4 separate regions of the Homo sapiens genome follow, and all the other regions are linked to region 2. Evidence: fine-mapped expression QTL. A gene starts in region 2. Each other region holds a variant in brackets. All regions are shown on one strand. Distances are from middle to middle.

The links. PIP is the estimated chance that this variant, and not a neighbour inherited with it, causes the effect.
Region 1: its variant is the best candidate, but not a certain one, in a credible set for the expression of ZNF503 in whole blood (INTERVAL, PIP 0.69).
Region 3: its variant is the best candidate, but not a certain one, in a credible set for the expression of ZNF503 in whole blood (INTERVAL, PIP 0.72).
Region 4: its variant is the best candidate, but not a certain one, in a credible set for the expression of ZNF503 in whole blood (TOPMed, PIP 0.55).

Annotation. Positions count from the first base shown.
Region 1 is chr10:75,974,843-75,979,515 of GRCh38, forward strand. The region is part of intron 2 of LRMDA (leucine rich melanocyte differentiation associated); the gene reads left to right. Among named protein-coding and RNA genes, the nearest start is that of MIR606, 420 kb to the left of the region's middle. The variant A/C (reference allele first, on the strand shown) is at 2,708.
Region 2 is chr10:75,399,060-75,403,732 of GRCh38, forward strand. ZNF503 (zinc finger protein 503) reads right to left here and starts at 2,705. Exons shown (of 2, transcript NM_032772.6): 1 at 2,046-2,705; 2 at 1-1,315. The coding sequence starts at 2,360. It overlaps ZNF503-AS2 (ZNF503 antisense RNA 2), which reads left to right and starts at 2,469. Exons shown (of 2, transcript NR_024421.1): 1 at 2,469-3,202. RefSeq lists an enhancer at 1,707-2,207.
Region 3 is chr10:75,336,140-75,340,812 of GRCh38, forward strand. All of the region lies in intron 2 of ZNF503-AS1 (ZNF503 antisense RNA 1), which reads left to right. It also overlaps a transcript of ZNF503 not described here. Among named protein-coding and RNA genes, the nearest start is that of ZNF503-AS1, 42 kb to the left of the region's middle. The variant AGATACCTG/A (reference allele first, on the strand shown) is at 2,217.
Region 4 is chr10:75,455,566-75,460,238 of GRCh38, forward strand. The region is part of intron 2 of LRMDA (leucine rich melanocyte differentiation associated); the gene reads left to right. Among named protein-coding and RNA genes, the nearest start is that of LRMDA, 26 kb to the left of the region's middle. The variant CT/C (reference allele first, on the strand shown) is at 2,324.

The sequences.
Region 1 (4,673 bases), 580 kb after region 2:
ATAATAATTGCAGTATTATTAACATGATGAGGATTAATGCAAGGCACTGTATTAGCTGCTGATAATAATGATGCACAATCCCCAAAAAGTTCACTTGTGTATTTAAAAACCAATGAGGAAGATGGATGCTTTAATGAGCGATGACCACCAAGTATGTACAAGCTATGACAGATGATCTACAGATGCTATGGAAGGACCAGCATTTCTTTAAATAAAAACTACTGGTAACTTTCATCTTAGGTCAGGCATTGTACTAAGTCCTTTGGGACGGAGTTATTTTACTGAATCCTGCATGGTAGATGCTGTACCATAATTATCCCATTCTGTAGACACTGAGGACTGGAGAAGTAACTTGTCTAGGTCACGCAGCTCTAGGGGGCTGAAGGCCCTGGGCTCTAAGCCACTGTCCTACTGCCCAACTTGCCTGAGTGCCTCTACACTGATGGTTGTTTCCCAGGACTTCCTGATTTTTTTCTGAAGGATGGAAACAAAGACGACCCAATAGGAGTGAGGTCATTACCTCCCTCCCATTCTCCCTTCAGCACCAGATCTCCAGGAGATGGTTCAGTAAAACAGCAGTGAATTGGATAGAGGAATCGTCTCTGTGGAGTGACTTTCCTTGTTTCTTTGGGGTGGACCATTCTGGGCTTTCCTCCTTTACACATGTGCTCATGTGACACTCTTTGTGGAGTGCCAGGGACTGTGTCCTTCGAGGACAGATTGGGTACCCTGTTTTCTGTGGCCTTCCATGAAAACTGCCCATGGCATGCTCTCCTTTCTTTGGGCCTTGAACTCTGAACGATGCACAGAGGCACTTCTGTCACATCTTCCTTTGATTCTATGTTGTGTGTATTAGGCTGCTGTGACTATCTCTAAAGTTCTTTTAGAATAGAAATCATGTCTGCTCAATATTCTACAGCATCTGTCTCAGGCTGATGAGCATCCCAGGCCTCTCCAAAATCAGAGTCATTTTTTCTTTCTTTCTTTCCTTCACCACCGTTTCCAATTCATCACAGAGTCCTGTCAGCTCTAATTCTAAAATGTTTCCTGAATCTCTTCCACCACCACCCTGGGCCAAGCCACCATTACATATTTCTGGGACAACAGTAGTAGCTTCCAAACTGCTCTCTTCCTTTTCTTCTTTTCTTCCTACAATCTATTTGCCACATGGCAGCCAGAGTGGGCGTTCAAATTGTCAATCAGCTCCTGTCACTCTCTTGCTGAATTCCCTCCAGCAGTTACCTGTTGCACTTGGTGTAAAATCCAAAGTCCTTCCATGGCCTACAAGGCCTGGTCTGGTCTGGTCCTATCAACGTCTCCCACTTCATCCCTGCAGAACTCTCTCTACTCTGTACATGCCAGGCCCCTTGGCCTTGTGTGGTCACTCAAAAAGAACAAACCTATTCATTCGTTCATTCATCTTAGAATCTTTAACAAGCTATTCCTTTTGTATACAACATTCTTGGTTAAGTTGGTCCCTTCTTATCTTTTAGGTCTCAACTCAAATATTGCCTTCTCGAACACTCATATAACCCACTTATAACTGGCAGTCTCTCTCTATTCTGTTGCTTTTTTGTTTTCTTCAGATCACGTATTATTATCTTCACAAGTGCTGTTTATTCATTTGCCTAAATGTGTATTGTCTGTCTACCCCCAGTAGAGTATAAACTCCATGAGCCAGGGCCTTCACCTACCTTGTTCTTTCAATCCTATGCCCCCTGCACCTGGCAGAGGGGCTGAACCATAATGCCAGCTAATAACTAATAAGCAGTTAATATTTGTCAAAGTATTACTATTTGCCAGGCATTGTCCCAAGCCCTTCACATATATTAAGCCATTTAGTGTTTACAATGACCACAGGATGTGGATATTATTATTATTCCCATTTTACTGATGAGGAAACTGAGGTATGGAGGGTTTATGAATGCAGTAGCTCAAGGGCATACAGCTAGTAAGTGGCAGAGTCTGGATTCAAGGCTCCAGAGCATGTGTTCCTAATCGCCACATTACAATGCCTCTCTAGTAGATACTGAATAAACCCTTGTTGGGTGAATTAATGAATAGAAGATGCTCAGTAGAGCTTTGTTGGGTAAACACAATCATGGATTATTGTGGAAATGTCTTAGGCCTGAACATTGTCAACCTCCAAGAGCAGAGGGCATGGCACTGTCTACGTGGGTATGAAATGCCCCATAACCGTAAATGGGGTCTGCTCACACCACATTTGCTATTTATACTTTATACTAGATAGAGCCCTCTAGCTCGATGGTTCTTTTCTTCCCTTTTTTTTTTTTTTCCTTTTTTAAAGAGAAGAGAATTGTGGGAAATATTTTGTTTTCCCTGGGAGCCAGACTATGTATTTACTTCAAGTTTTATTAAATGAGTTATAAATTTTCCCAGCAATTTACTCATAGCTCAAGAGGTTTAATTTGCATGTGTTGCCTTTTACAATATGCTTTTCGTAATGTTGCAGATGCTTCTTCCCCAGCTTCAGTAAACAACAGGCACTCCGCCAGGTTTTTGACTGAACATGTGCCAGGCCTGGGAAATATGAGTTAACTCCATGGTGACTGTTGGGGGCCACACGTCCCCCTCTGTCCAGGGCATCTGGGGAGCTGAGTCGAATTCCTGAGGGGCAGGAGCAAAGATTTTCTGAATCTTCTTTTTGGACATCTTTTTAATATTTTTTTCCACACGCAAAATAAAT[A/C]AATAAACAGACATTTCTGCCTAAGTATCAGGTTTGCACTGGTCCTAATTAGAAAGTAGTGTTAATAGGATGACAGAAAGCATTTGCTAGGGCCCCCAGGGTGATCTCTAGAGAGGCTAAAGTCACTTTAGCCTTTGGGGAGCTGCCCACGGCCTATGATGGTGAAGCCCTTTGAGCTTCGAAGAAGCCAGTCCCTCTGAGGGTCCAGGTCTGATGCCTGTTTCATTTCAGGTAGAGAGCCTCAGGGTTGAGAACTCATCTTCTGGTGTCACACTGTCGGGTTGAGTTCTGGCTCTGCCACTTATTAGTCGTGTGACCTTGGACAAGGTACTTAACCTCTCTGTGCCTCAGTTTCCGCATCTGTGGAGATAATGGTCATAATGGTCCCTGTCTTGTAAGTTTGTTGGGGGAATTAAATGGAATACTGCATATAAAGCGTTTGGAGGAGAGTGGTTTATAAATGGACACATAAATGGCATGCTGATTGTCCCAGGGCTATTCAGTTCATTGGCTACAACTTAGGGGACAGATCCTCTCAGTGAGTTATTCCTGGTTGGAGATGGAGGGCACTGGAGCAAGGGATGGATGGTGTGTTCATTAGAATGAGGCTTAGCTGCATGTAGCAGAAGAGCTCAAGTTAACAGTGACTTAGCATTGTAGAGATTTATTTCTCTCACATAAAAGGAGTATGGAAGTATTGCAGGGCTGGTGTGATAATTTCATGGTGTCATGAGGAACCCTGGTTCCCTCTCTTTGTAGCTCTGACATTCTTAGCATATTTTCTCATGATTCAAGATGGCAGCTTGTGCTCTTGTCATTCTGTGCGCATTCCTCCCTCAAGAAGCAGGGAGGAGGAAGGAACAAACAGGAGTCTCATTACCTCTTAAGGAAACTTCCAGCAAGTCCCACGTAAGACATTCTTTGACATCTCATTGGCCAGAGTTTAGTCACAGAGCCACAGCTAGCTGAAAGGAAAATGGAATCGTTTAGCTTGGCAGCCACATGCCAAATAAAAATCCAGGTTCTGTTACAAAGCAGGAGGTGGAGAATGGGTGTGGACGCAGTGAACTATCAGTGAGTTTCCAGTATTGTCCTGTGGTTTTGTGACTTGAGGTTGAAGGAATTCCCAGGTACATAAAGCAGTATTAAATTTTGTTTCCTAGATGATTTTAGGTGGCACAAATACATTTTTTATTTGAATAATCTTATAATTTTTTGTATGCAACCATATTATAATTACATATCAAACCCAGGATTTCACAGATCTCCTACAGTGTGATACAATGTTATAATGTTTTTCTTTAAGTCTAAATTTAACTGCATCAATGTTTAAAAAATTAAGTAAATGCCGGCATATAGAGATGAGCCAGGCAATCTGTGCAGTGGCTAAATGTGGGTCCTGGGGCCTGAGTTTGAATCTGTAACCTGCCACTTATTGGCCAAATGACCTTGGACTTTCCATGCATCACTTTGCTTATCTGTAAAATGGCATTAATAATAGTACCCATCTCACAGAGTTGTGATAAGGACCAAATGGGTTAGTACTTATAAAGCTCTAAGAATAGTGCCAGGCATGTGATGAGTAGCCCGTGAACATTAGTCATTGTTCTTATTGTTATTATTTCTGTTGTTATTGTTATTATTATGGCTTATATTACTGCTATTATTAATAATAATGATTACAATAGATGACATTTGAATAGAGCAGAAATTACAAGGGTGGTACATGCGTGACTGAAATTAGGGAAACACTGGCTTAGAGGAGTGAGATTGGCAGTTAATCAGGAGAGTCTTAGACACAGCTATAAATAATGACTTTATTAACAATTAAAACTAGTGCTTTATGTTTAAAGTGGCTCCATATATGATAATAACATTGATTAGAGTTTATTGAACATGGTGCCAGGTACCATGGGGTATGCTTTAAATATATTACTTTTAATTTTTCCAGTGCTGTAAGCTAAGT
Region 2 (4,673 bases):
CCGTATGGGTCCGCAAGTGGCTCAGCAGCTCTTCGGACGTGGCGAAGCGCTTGTCGCACGGCCCGTTGGCCGACACCCAGTTGCAGATGTGGGGGAGTGGGTCGTTAGGGAGCATAAAGCCGTAGGGGTAGAGGGGGTGGCCGGCCAGGGAGGGCGGTGTGGCGCCAGCAGCCGCGGCGGCCGTTAGCGAGGAGTGCACACCGTGCAGCGGGTGCGTGGGGTACACCAGCGGGTATCCGGACTTCAGCGCCGCAGCCGCAGCAGCCGGATCATGTGCGCAAGAAGCGCTGGCGGCCGCCGCCCCTGCCAGGTGGCTAGCGCAGTGGTAGCTGAGGCAGTAAGGGTCCCGGCACAAACTGGCTGTCATCACGGACGGCGGAGACGCTCCGGCCAAAGGGCTGGAGCCGGCCGGCTTACTGCAGCCCAGAGACCCGGCCGCGGCCGCCGCCAGCTGCGCCCCCACCAGGCTGCCCGGCTTGGTGGGGTCAAGTGCCACGCCGTGTGGCAGGAACTGGGGCGGGTAGCCGGCGTAGGCCCCGGCCAGGCTGCCTGGGTAGGTCATACCCGCGGGAGGCAGAGGGAACACTGTCTGGCCCGGCTTGTAGGGTGACACGGGAGCCACCAGCCCAGAGCCCAACACTGAGGAGGAGGTGGGCGCGCTGGGGCCGGAGCCGGAGCTGGAGCCCGATGAACCGCCGCAGTCCGAGCCCAGAGCCTTGCCTCCCGGGCCCCCATCCGGATGCTGGTTCACATCCACATTAATCCCGCCGCCGCAGCTAATCCGGCCGTGTGCCAGCCCCGTGGGTCCCCCTTCGGCCGAGGCGCCCCCGGTGCCCTTGCCACCGCCGCCCACGTCGGTGTCTTTCTTGTCGTCCTTGCCCTCCGGGGCACCCCCGGCCGAGGACAGCATACCTCCCGGCGAGCAGGCCGAGGCGCTGGAGCTCGGGCTGCCTGTCCTGGGCGTGAATGGCTGGCAGGTGGCGCTCGGTACCCGGAATCCCGACTTCTCCGACGAAACACCCCCGCCGCCGCCCCCGCCACCGCCACCGCCTCCACCGCCGCCTCCCGGCTCCTTCTTATCCGAGCCGGGTTTGGAGTACGGCTTGAAACTCGACTTGTCCTCCACGCCGATGTCGCTCAGCTTCAGGGGGCCCGATTTGGTGTCCTTGTCGCCCGCAGCACCGCCGCCGGCACCGCCCGCGCCGCCCCCGTTGGAGGCAACCGAGGAGAGTTTGGAGGAGGGCGAGGGGTCGGGCTTCCCGATCTGCGAACATGTTTGCGCCAACAGCGCCAGCGGGCTCTTCTTGGCATCGAGCTGCGGGGTCAGACGATGGGGGGGGAGCGTCACACAGAGAAAGAAGTGGAAACCCTTTAGAATCCTGGCTTCTGGGGTTCAAATGCCTCTCCGCAACAGCCCACGAAGATCCTCCCAGCCCCAAGGCGCAATTCTAGGCGGCACCCCCTCTTCAACACCCACTCACAAACATTCTCGCCGTTGGGAAAGGCAGCAGATTGCTCCCCCCGCCCAACCACCACCCCCAGCAGCATCTTTCCTGCCCTCTCTGAGCGCTAACTAGATTTTTAAAGAGCAAAATGTTTTGGTTTTCGGTTCCTAGACCCAGAACTGTACCCCCTCCCCACAAACACTCCTTAATTCTTCAGAGTAAGGGCTCGGGCGGCTGGCGCCTCAGAGGCTGTGTGCACACACTGGCTTCTGCGGATACGAAGGACGGCGACTTTGGAACCGTATTTCAGACCTCCGCCTGCCTTCGGTGCCGAGTGAAGGGGCCTGGGTCGGGGTAGGGGCTTTCATATCGAAAGGAGAAACAAGTATTGGCAGCCTTGCTCCCTAGCATGCACGCCCCATTCCACTTCCTCCCCCTTTTCCGCCCTAGTTTTGAGGTACGGAAGCAGTAGCCTCTTCCCCCATTCGGGAGCTGAATCACTCCGACCCCCCCACCTCCGCCCAGATCCCGAGAAAAAGAAAGCCCTAGGGTGGCAGCCAGGGTAGTGGTCCCAGTGCGATCCAGAGAGAGGGTCCTTACCTCGATGGGGCTGACCGGCGTGGAAGGCAGGGGCTGCAGGTACTCGGGGTGCAAAATGTGGCCAGTTCGTGCCGTCAGCATCTTCAGCACCTTGATTGGCAGGCGGTTGGCCTGGCGCAGGGGGTCAGAGGGGGGCACGGCGTGCACAAAAGGCTTGGTGCTGCCGGCCGGGGACGAGCCTGGGCCGGGGCCGGAGCTATTTCCAGAGAGCGCGCTGGTCCAGGCAGGGTCTGCACCGCCGCCTCCGCCTCCGCCGCCGCCGCCGCCGCTGTGCTTACTGCTTCTTAGGGCAGAAAGCGAGGGCGCTGTGCTCATGACCCACCCGCGCGCATGGGAGCAGCGGGGGGGAGGGCTCCGGGAGGCGCGGGGCGGGCTCGGGGCTGCGCGCTCGCCCCGGGAGCAGGAGCAGCGGGAGGAGGAGGAGCTGGCGCGGCGGCCACGGGCGCCCAGCGCGCCTTCTCGGCGCCTGGAGCCAGACGCGAGTAATCCTGGGTGGCCCGCAGCGGAGCCGTGGCCGGGCTAGAGGAGCCGGCTGGACTGCGGGAGTGCCGGGCGGCTCGCGGTGTCCGCCTCGGGCTGCTCCCCTGCGCTGCGTTCTCGCGGCCCCGCGCCGGCGCTGCGCTCTGCGATGCGAGCCGCTGCGTGTCCAGCCGGGGCTCTGGCGAGGAAACTCACTTCAAAAGCAGCTGCACCAAGGGGGAGATTAAAGCCTTTGCCGCCTTCCAATCAAATGGGAGCCCGAGGTGATTGGAGGGTCAAGGGGATGTGACGCGTCCCGCGCCGCCGCCGCCGCCGCTGCCAGGACTCTCAGTGCCGGTTTTAATGGGCAGCTCCCTCTTCGCCGCCCCCCTGTGTGTCCCCTCCCTCGATTTCGCTGGGAGGACGAGATGGACATTTATTCTACGTTTGCCATCCGCCGCCTCCCTCTTTTTTCCTCCTCGTCGTTCTTCCTTTCCCCAGCTCGAAAATAAACTGAAACCTTCTTTTGAAGGGGGGTGCGCGTGAGGAACAGACTGCGGGGGGTGTCCAGAAGGAGCACCGGTGGGAGTGTGGACACCGGCCGGACTGTCAACTCCAGGGGCGAAGGGAACCTGCACACCCAGTGTTTTTTCCTTCGCAGTAATCGAGATCCCGCGCGGCGCAGCGCAGCCACCAGGGTAAGAAGGCAAGGTGGGGAGCCGGAGCTGGAAGAAGCCCGCCCGCCCGCTCTAATTTCCTCAGATTCCGCGGCGGAGAAACCAGAAGCTAGATGGGCAGTCGCAGCGGCGGCGGCTCAACACCGCGAGGAGCGCTGGGCTCTCCGCCCTTCCCGGCCACGTGACGCCCGGGGACGCGTAGATTGGGGCAGCAGCGGGGGTCACATGTTTCCTCTGTTTCACCCTCAGTCTGTCCCCCAACCCCCCATTCTTACTCTCCCACCCTGTTTTCCTCCCTCCCCCCCTTCTTTGGGCATCTCCACCCCTCCATCAATTGTCAATGTTCCTCGACCGCAATCAATCAGTTATTTGTCAGCTCTTGTCAATCCTCCCGTGATTTATGTCAGCTTTTGTTGCTGATTACAAGGCGGGTGCGACTTGAAGGGAAAAAGAGAGAGGGAGAGAGAGACGGAGAGGAAGGAGGAGATTGAGAGGGAACTGGAGGAGGGGAAAAGAGGAGCGGCCTCCTGGGATGGGGGTGGGGTGGGGGCTCTAAGAAAAAGAATGAAAGAGGCGCACGGTGTCAGGAAAATGAATAGCGAGAGTAAAGTGCGCAGGTGCGCCCAGGGCGCCGAGAGGGGCGCGCAGGCCTGGAGTGTGCGCCTGCCCTCTCGGTGTCGGAGAGACGCCCTTCCACCTCTGGGAGCCTCGGTCTGTTGGGGTCGCGGAGTTCGGGCGCGGCTCCGGGTACCCGAGACCAGCGGCGGCAACTTCTAACACGGGAGATTTCCCGCCACCCCACCCCGCCGCCGCGAGTCCTCGCGGGGCGTGTTGCGTGCGGAGGTCAGGCTGCCACCCTCTGTAGTTCCCTAACCCCAAACTCGGAGACTTCTAAGAGCCACACCACCAAGGAACTTCTAGTCCTGGAGGTCAATGGTGGGGCAAACCTCGCCTCAATTCTTTGACCCCCTCGGGTCGTAAGCAGGGCTAAGAGGCTGCGAAGAAGAGGCCTGGCCATGGGTGTATGGGGGAAGAAACATCTCAGGCTCACTCATGCCCCCTCCCCGACCTTCTCCCACCTGCCGCCATCCCCGCAGGCTGGGGAGCCAGGGTAACTCGGGGCTGCTCTCTCGAATTTATTGGAACGCCGAGTCGGAATGAGCTGCGCTAGGAGAGCCGAGGGAAGGAGCGAGAGAGGGAGGGGGCGGCTGCCTGTGGGAACGCGGGTTCTTCCAGGGAAGCGGAGCGGGACTGCCGCGTTCCCCTCGATTTGCACCGTCACTCGGGTTGTTTGGGAAGAAAAGGGGAGGCGCTGTGCGTGCCACCGGGTACCTGGACCTGGATGCCCAGTGTGTATGCATGCCTGTGGCGCTGCGTGAGTTATCGGGGCTCTGATAGCGTCCGGAGCGGGTTCGAGGGTCTCCTCCAGGAACTCGCAGAAATTAGAGGGGGTGGGGAGGAGGACACACCCCCTTCCTCGGAACGACTTAGA
Region 3 (4,673 bases), 63 kb before region 2:
TCTCTACTCCTTCCTGTCTGTCTGCTAATTTGCAGTCTATTCCACCTCAAAGTTTCACTTCTTCTATTACACCTACTAAGCATCTCCAATGCAAACTGTTCTTCTGCTTTTCCTGTGCTTCTACTCACCCTGTCTATTCACAATTTTAGGTCCAAATTACATGTTCCAATGGAGGACTTGGAAACACATTAGAAACTCAATATTTAATACTTCCTTGTTAGACCTATACAGAATTGTCAAAAAAAAAAAAAAAGCCTAAGCTGAAAATTCCCAAAACTGATTTTCAAATCATCATCGTTATTATTATTATTATTTGCCTTAGAAGTGAGGCACATTTGCTAAATGTTAGGGAGCTCTGGAAAGGAGCATGGGTTGGTAGGAATAGGGTAGGGAATTGCACTCACTTTCTTCTTCTGCATAACAGATGACCACAATCACAGCAGCTGAAAACAACACCGGTTTATTATGTCTCAGCTCTGTGGGTCAGATGTCCAGGTGGCTTGTCTGATTTCTCTGTTTTGGATCTCACAAGGCCAAAATCAAGATGTTGGCCAGGCTGGGATCTTCTTGGAGGCTCTGGGGAAGAATCCATTTCCAACCTCATTCAGGTTGTTGGCAGATTCAGTTCCTGGTAACTGTGGGACTGAGGTCCCCATCTTCTTGCTGGCTAGGGTGTCACTCTCAGCCTATTGAGGCCACTCTCAGATCCTTCCATGTGGCCCCCTTAATCTCAGCAACAGAGAATTCCCATGCATTGAATTCTCCTGCCTTATTTTTCTGCTACCAGCTGGAGAAAACTCTCTGCTTTTAAAAGGCTTGTCTTACTGGGTTAAGCCCACCCAGCTAATCTCTCTATCTTAAGGTCAACTGACTTGGGTCTTTAATTATATCTGAAAAATTCTGGCAGGGTGTGGTGGCTCACACCTGTAATCCCAGCACTTTGGGAGGCCAAGACAGGTGAATTGCTTGAGCCCAGGAGTTTGAGACCAGCCTGGGTAACATGGTGAAACCCCATCTCTACAAAAAACACAACAATTAGTCGGGCGTGGTGGTGCGTGCCTGTAGTCCCAGCTACTTGGGAGGCTGGCTTAAGGTAGGAGGATGGCTTGAGCCCAGGAGGCCAAGGTTGCAGTGAGCCGAGATCGTGCTACTGCCCTCCAGCATGGGCAACAAAGTGAAAACCTGTCTTAAAAAAAAATTCTCGGTGGGGCACGGTGGCTCACACTTGTAATCCCAGCACTTTGGGAGGTCGAGGTGGGCGGATCACGAGGTCAGGAGTTCAAGACCAGCCTGGCCAACACGGTGAAACCCCATCTCTACTAAAAATACAAAAATTAGGGTGGTGGCAGGCGCCTGTAATCCCAGCTACTCAGGAGGCTGAGGCAGGAGAATCGCTTGAACCCAGGAGGCAGAGGTTGCAGTGAGCCAAGATCGTGCCACTGCCCTCCAGCCTGGGTGAAAGAGCTAGACTCCGTCTCCAAAAGAAAAAAAAATTCTCCACAGCAGTACCTAGATTAGTGTTTGGTTGAATAACCAGGGTATGGGAGTCTTGGGGAACCATCTTTAGAATTTTGCCAACCACAGGACTGATGAAGCAGAAAGCCAGAGAACCAATAAGGAAAGGACCACTTAGGTTCAGTGGACCAGTGGCTTGCAGAGCAAAAGCACCCTTCAGGATCACCTAATCTAGCCCTTTTATTCTTTGGATTGGAACACCAATACCTAGAGAGGGGAAGGGAATTTATAACTAATCTTCTATACATTCACCCTGGGCCAGATGTTGTACTAAATGCTTATGGAGAATATAGAGATAAATAAGACCCAGCATCTGCCCTTAGGATTTTATTACCCATGCATCCAAGGTCCGTGGAAGTTTATCTTAAGAAAATAGCTACTTAATCCTTGGAAATTATAGAATTGTGTGCTAGAAATGGACCTCAGAGATCAAATGTTCCAGTGTTTCTTAAGAATAGAAACAGTGACTTTAGATGACATGTAGACCAACATTTTAAATTGTAATCATAACGTCTTTATGTTAATGTTACCTTCTACTTATGGCAAATGATGCTATATTCCCTGCATTACAATGACATAAAGTTTCCTTCTGCCCTCTTTCCCTCACTCTCTCTTTTTTCCTTTTTTCACCTTGCATTTATGGAACACTTACTGTAGAAGACAACAGACGATGGTACTTAAGGCTTTGGCTTTGGAAAAAG[AGATACCTG/A]GATTCTGATCCTGAAGTCTCTCACTTAAACTTTACAAGTCTCACTTTCTCATCAGATAAGTAAGGAGAAATATATTATTTAAATGACATCATGTGTGTAAAGTGCTTAACAGAGGGCCCATAACATTGTAAGGATCTAATTGATGTTAGCAATTATAAAATTAACCCTTTTCTGGTCCAAGGGGAGAGGGGATTTCTGGTAAGGGGAGCTGGGCCTTGTTTCCCTGACCTCTCTGGGGAGTGGCAGCAGTGCTCAGGGCCCTCATCCCTCTCCTCCTCTCTCCTGGGACTTTTGAGAGTCTGGGAAGGTGCCTGAGATCTGGAACTTTCTGGAGAGAGAGCAAATGGATACAGAAAGTAAAGGAAATAATGGAAGGTGTCGCCATAGGGACATGCCTGTGGGAATCATCCATTCTTTGGAGAAGGAACACACACAGATTGGGCACCAGCGGTGTGCCCTGCTTCGAGAATCTTGCAGGGAGTGAGGCAGCTGCAATAGTTCCTATTCTGTCTCTACCCTAAGCCTCCTCCCAAGTCACTCTCGCTCTTTGCCTCCCTCTCTTTATTGAAAGAGTTGTTGAAGGCCGGGCACGGTGGCTCATGCCTGTAATCCTAGCACTTTTGGAGGCCGAGGCGGGTGGATTGCTTGAGCTCAGGAGTTTGAGACCAGCCTGGGAAACATGGTGGTGAAACCTCGTCTCTACTAAAATACAAAAAATTAGCCGGACATTATGGTACACACCTGTAATCCCAGCTACTAGAGAGGCTGAGACAGGAGAATTGCTTGAACCTGGGAGGTGGAGGTTGCAGTGAGCCGAGATCGTGCCATTGCACTCCAGCCTGGGTGACAGAGCGAGACTCCGTCTCAAAAAAAAAGAAAGAGTTGTTGAAATATCTCCTCCCTCTAAAAAATCTTCTTGCTCTGTTTGGAGTAGGAAGATGTTTCTCTCATGTATAAAAAAAAGGACTTCAGGTGGCCGTCAGAAGAGGAAAATGGGGGCTAGAGTCAGGCATTCAGATGGCCAAAGGCACCGGGTCACTTGGCAGTACATGAGAGGGGAGCTTCGGAAAGAAGATGGGAGAGCCTCCAAAACACTTATTAGCTCATAAAATGTCACCTGAGATAACCTCTGAATGTTTAGAAAACTGCTTGTTGTATGCCACCAGTGGTAGACATTCAAGGTGCTGTGACACGCTGGTGGGGGAGATATTTTGTCAAGAGCTAAAGAGAGAGCCCAGTGATAGGTGCCTATTCTGCCAACACACGGGTGGGTGTCGCCAGCGAGGAGCCAAGCCACCTGTGCCTTGGTGATGCCCCAAGGAGGCGGAGTCCCTGGGGGAAAAGTAGATTGGGGGGCAAAGGCGAATGGTATGGTAGAAGATGGTTTTATACATCTTGATGCTATTTAAGTTATGAAGACATAGCCTATAGGTCTTTTGCCAACCAACCATTGATTCGTCATGGGAAATGGGTTGTGAGACTCTCTGGTTCAGAATGTTTTTCTGGGCCACCTCTCTGCTTAGACTAGGGAGTGAAAACAAGTGACATAGATTTAAAATAATAATAATAAACTGGGCGCAGTGGCTCACGCCTGTAATCCCAGCACTTTGGGAGGTAAGGCGAGTGGATTACTTGAGCCCAGGAGTTTGAGACCAGCCTGGGCAACACGGCAAAACCCTATCTCTACAAAAAATACAAAAATTAGCTGGTGTGGTGGTGTGCGCCTGTAGTCGCAGCTACTCAGGACACTGAGGTGGGAGGATCACCTGAATGGGGGCCTGGTGGTGGGGGCCGGGGGGAGGGGGCGGGGGGTCGAGGCTGCAGTGAGCCGTGATCACACCACTGCACTCCAGCCTGGGCAACATAGTGAGACCCTGTCTCAAAATAACAACAATAATAATAATAGTCACACACACAGCAGTGAAACAAGACTTTCAACTCTACTGGTGGGAGTGTAAATTTGTCTGGTCTTTCTTGAGGCATTTGGGCAGTATCAAAGTCTTAAAAATGTTCATATACTTTATCCCAGCAATTCCACTTCTAGGAATGTGTTCTAAGAAAATAGTTGGACAAGTGCACAAAGATCAGCATATAATGATATCCATGATAGTTTTGTTCACAATCGTGAACAACTGAAAACAACCAAAATATCCAGCAATTAGAGATTGGATAATAAATGAAGGTAACTTCATAGAATACCATGCATCTATTGAAAAGGACACTGCTGCTGTCTCTTTTTTTTTTGTTTTTTGAGACAGAGTTTCGCTCTTGTTGCCCAGGCTGGAGTGCAATGGCATGATTTCAGCTCACTGCAACCTCCACTTCCCAGGTTCGAGCGATTCTCCTGCCTCAGCCTCCCAAGTAGCTGGGATTACAGGCATGCGCCACCACGCTGGGCTAATTTGTTTTTGTATTTTTAGTAGAGATGTGGTTTCACCATGTTGGTCA
Region 4 (4,673 bases), 57 kb after region 2:
ATTGTCTTTGAGCTAGTGAGTGGCATTGGGGAGCTATACATGGAGAGAGGGTTCCCAGCCAGCCCAGCAAAGCAGGTAAAATGACCCAGGTGAGACCTGGGTTGGCTCCTAGACAGGGGCATACCTTATGTACACACAGGATAGCACAGTCCAATTAATTGCCAGGAGTATAATAGAGGTTCTCATGCCCAAGAAGTTGTCAGAAGGGAGAGCATCTTCAAAAGAAACTTCATGAAGAAACTGAGACCTGAGCCACCTCCTGGAGGGAGGGCAGGATTTTCCATGCTGCCTTAAGACTTCGGAGCCTGTACAACATCAGGGCTTTGGGGCCAGGATTTTCCTGAGTAGGAATGGTGAGAACCTGATCTGTATGCCCTCAGGGGTGGGTTGGAATCCACAAGAGAAACTGGAGAACAGGGTAAGTTTCTTCCCACACCCAAAGACATAAACCCTTTTGCTGTGTAGCGTAGTGGTGATTCTGGGACATAGAAGCTGGCCATGCCAGAGTCTTTCAGAGAGGCCAGCCAAGTAAGGACTCAAGGTATGGGTTCTCCCATCAAATTTTCACCCTGGAGTGACAGGAGTTGCGGGGGAGACAAGCCACCTCCAGCGGGTGGAGGGCAGCCCATTCCCAGGCTGAGCAGGGCCTGCGTTTCGGCCCTGACACATATACGCGGCAATTACGCTGTTAGAAGGGTCACGGTTAATGCAGTTCTTCCAAGACTCCTGCCACAAGCATGTGCCTCTTCACACCCAGCAAGGCCCTGTGGGCTGGCTCTGTGCTCGTTCAGAAGGGGAGGAACCAAAACTTGAAACCTCATCTTTCAGAAATTGCATTTATTTTCACTCTTTCATGCCACAGTGTTTCTGCAAGGCCAGCACTTAGGGGTACATTCTTCCCTGGGAGAATTGGTAGATTATTGATTCTGTGAGTGCCTTAGGGCCTTTGCAGAAACTCTGTCTCCCATTGAAATGTATGCTTTTCCAGGATGGGATAACAGCTTCTCTTTCAGAAGTGCCCAGGACAGGGTTACACACTAGGTAGGTGCCCCTCTATCAGAAGACACAATCTAACCTGGGAATTCTTCTTTTGCTAAAATGGATTTTATTTTATTTTATTTTGTTTTTTGAAAAAGAGCTTGCTCTTTCGCCCAGGCTGAAGTGCTGTGGCACAATCTTGGCTCACTGCAACCTCCGCCTCCCAGGTTAAAGTGATTCTCCTGGCTCAGCCTCCCGAGTAGCTGGGATTACAGGTGCGTGCCACCACTCCCAGCTAATTTTTGTATTTTTAGGAGAGTCAGGGTTTCACCATTTTGGCCAGGCCGGTCTCGAATTCCTGACCTCAGGCAATCCACCTGCCTTGGCCTCCCAAAGTGCCAGGATTATAGGCATGAGTCACCTCACGTGGCGGTAAAATGGATTTTAAAAAAAACATGGTAATTGCTTATTCTAGAAGAGGTAATGGTACTGGTGACTCCCATTCATCTATCAGTTTTCCCTGATGACCTTCTTGAATCTTTATGGCAAGCAAGGTGTTCTTTCCAGCTTAAAGACAGAGAACAAAAATGTGCAGAGGTTAAAAGGCTTTCCCAAGGGCATGCAGCTGGTCAGTGGGGGGACCAAGATCTAAATGCAGCTTTGCCTGACTACAAAGTCGACTGTTAGCTCCTATACTGTATTCTATTTGATGCATGTTTCCCCTAATTCAAATTCATTGTTGTCCTAAGATCTTTATCTGGCAAACTAGTATAGGTTGACTGAGAAGAGGAAAATTGTCTTCCAGGCTCATGAAAAGGGGACAACCCCTACAGCGTAGTGGTGATTCTGGGATGTAGAAGTTGGCCATGCCAGAGTCTTTCAGGGAGGACAGCCAAGTAAGGACTCGAGGTATGGGTTCTCCCATCAAACCTTCTCCCTGGAGTGACAGGAGTTGCGGGGGAGACAACTAAGGCTGCTGTTGTTTTATTTTCTTCCCAAACTTATATTTCACCTTATCATTTTTTCAGGAGGAGATAAAACTGTAGGCACTGAGGCTGTACATTAAATAATAGTGTTTTGAAAGTCTATAGAAAATTAGGTTAAGTTTTATTGTCCTGTTCCTTTATGGACCACCAGTTTTTGGTTCTATCTCAGATATGTTTTAGTCCTCTTGCTGCTGCCGTTTATCTGGACGGCATTTTCCATCAGTTACAGGCAAAGAATATTGTCCTCTTTTCTCACTCCTCAGAGTGTTTCTGGGTTCCAGGGGAAAGAGGTGATTTGAATGCAAATGCACTTTAAATCACTAACACTACATAACTCTAATGCATTACTGCCATTTTTT[CT/C]TTTTACTTTTAATTGAGAAACTGAACTCTTGCTAGTTTGAAGCTCAGAGTCATTGTTGGAGACCAAGAAGCTGGGGTATTTCTGGCTGGAGGATGATCTAGTAGAAAATCAAGGAGATCATTAAGACACAGGATGCCTGAGTATTGAGTATTGAGTATTTGTCTTTGTTCCATCACAAATCGTCTGTGAAATATTGAGTAGGTCATTTAATCTCTGTTGTCATTCTCCAAATGGGAGATAGAAGGAGTTGTGAAGACCAAATGAAATACTAAATGTAAAAGAGTTTTGTTCCTGTAGAAGATATACTGAAAGAGTAGATATCCCAAAAGTAGTTTATTTCATTTTTGATTCTTTTGACTTTGAGCAGGTTTATCTTTAAGATTATTTTGCTTGGGGTCCTATGGCATTGGTTGTTTATAGGTTTGGTTTTGCAAAGTTAGGGCTCTGTGGGGGGTCTACTTCCTGCCAGACTGTAGATTGCAAAGTTATGGACTTGGGTCTGAATGGCCAGGTTTCCCTTGGGCAAGGACAACTGAGAGTATAACATTTTCCAATTCAATTATGTTTTAAAAGGGAAGAGGGAGGAAGCAGAATCTTCATTAGAACAAAATAAACATGATGATTATTAGCAGTGATAGAATACTAAATAAGGTATGTCATTATAGTAAGATTTTAAGAAAGCCAAACGTCAGAGTAAAATTCCATATCTTACTTAACAATTTTGAGGCATGATTTTTATCTAGTTGTACCTCTGAGCTCAGAGAAGAATTTTATCACCTAACCCTCTACAGCAGTTTCAACATAGATGCACCCCACCCTTCCCCAATTTGCTCTTCCACAGACTGTACCTGATGGGACAAGCTTTCCGTCAGGTAGCAGGAGGAACTAAATTTACTCTTCCTGCCTTGGGCTTGAGAACAGTTATCTTCCTGGTTCATGTAGTATCAAAAGGAAGATCATAGACCTTGCAAGGAGCAAGCGGCTATTTTTACAACCATAAAAAAAACTCCCATCTGATTTTTTTGTCTTTACTAAAAGTTTTCATTTTATGCAATTTCTGATCTACCTTGAATTGAATGGTTCAGTTGTAACTTCAGGGTCTGCTTTAGATTTTTTTTTTTTCTTTTAAGGACTTGTTAGAACCTCTTTACAGAAGATGATTGTAAAAATCACAGGCAGTACGCAGCAAGATGGAATGTGGAAATTTGAAATTGATTTAATATTAGGAAAAAAAACCCGCTGCTTTTAGAGTGTTAACTAGTCAGATTGGCTAGGTGCAGTAGTTCATGCCTGTAATTCCAGTACTTTGAGAGGCTGAGGCTCACTTGAGGCCAAGAGTTTGAGACCTGCCTGGGCTGAACATAGTAAGATCTTGTCCCTACAAAAAATTTAAAAATTAGCCAGGCATGGTGGCACACACTTATAGTCCCAGCTACTTGGGAGGCTGAGGTGGGAGGATTGCTTGAGCCCAGGAGTTTTGAATTCTGCAGTGAGCCATGATTGTGCCATAGCATCATGAAAGGGAGGCCTCAACCATACCTCTTTATCACAGTGCTCAACTTCTCCTGGGATCCCCTATGCTATGCTGCACAAAAGCACACGCTTCCAAAGGACCTTAGGTTGGTTTAATCCAGTGGTTTTTCAAAGTTATTTTTCTAGCAGCAGAATCCTTGTCAAACAAATTATAGAAAGCCCATTATGGAATACAAATATATATATTTTTTAAGCTCAGCAAAAACAGTGAAACTATTCAGATGAACACTGGGTGTCTCAGTTCATTTTGTGTTGCTAGACAGTATACCTGAGATTGGGCCATTTATAATGAACAGAAATGTACTGGCTTATGGTTCTGGAAGTTGGGAAGTCCAAGATCTAGGGGCTGCATCTGATGAGGGCCTTCTTGCTACATCATCGCATGGTGGAAGTGCAAGGGCAAGAGAGCAAGTGATTGAACTTGCAGCCTCAAGCCCTTTTATAATCTGCATTGCTCCATTCATGAAGGTGGAGTCCTCATCACTCTTATTAATAAATGCCTCGTATTAGGCTCCACCTCCTAACACTGTTGCATTGGGGATTAAGTTTCCAATACATGAACTTTGGGGAACACATTCAAACCATAGCACTGGGTTTGGTATTAAGGTTAGAGACAAAATGCAGTTTTATACTGGCCCCAGCATTCAGATTATTCTTGTATTTGGGTTTGAGTGTGCAATATTTAAATGTCAATACACTCAGTTAAGTATTTGCAAATAGTGACATTTATTTTCCCCTTAAAGTTCATCCTGTAATATCAGATTATTGTTTAAATAATTGTAAGAAGAAGCTGTATTTTGAAAAGTGAGTTAATG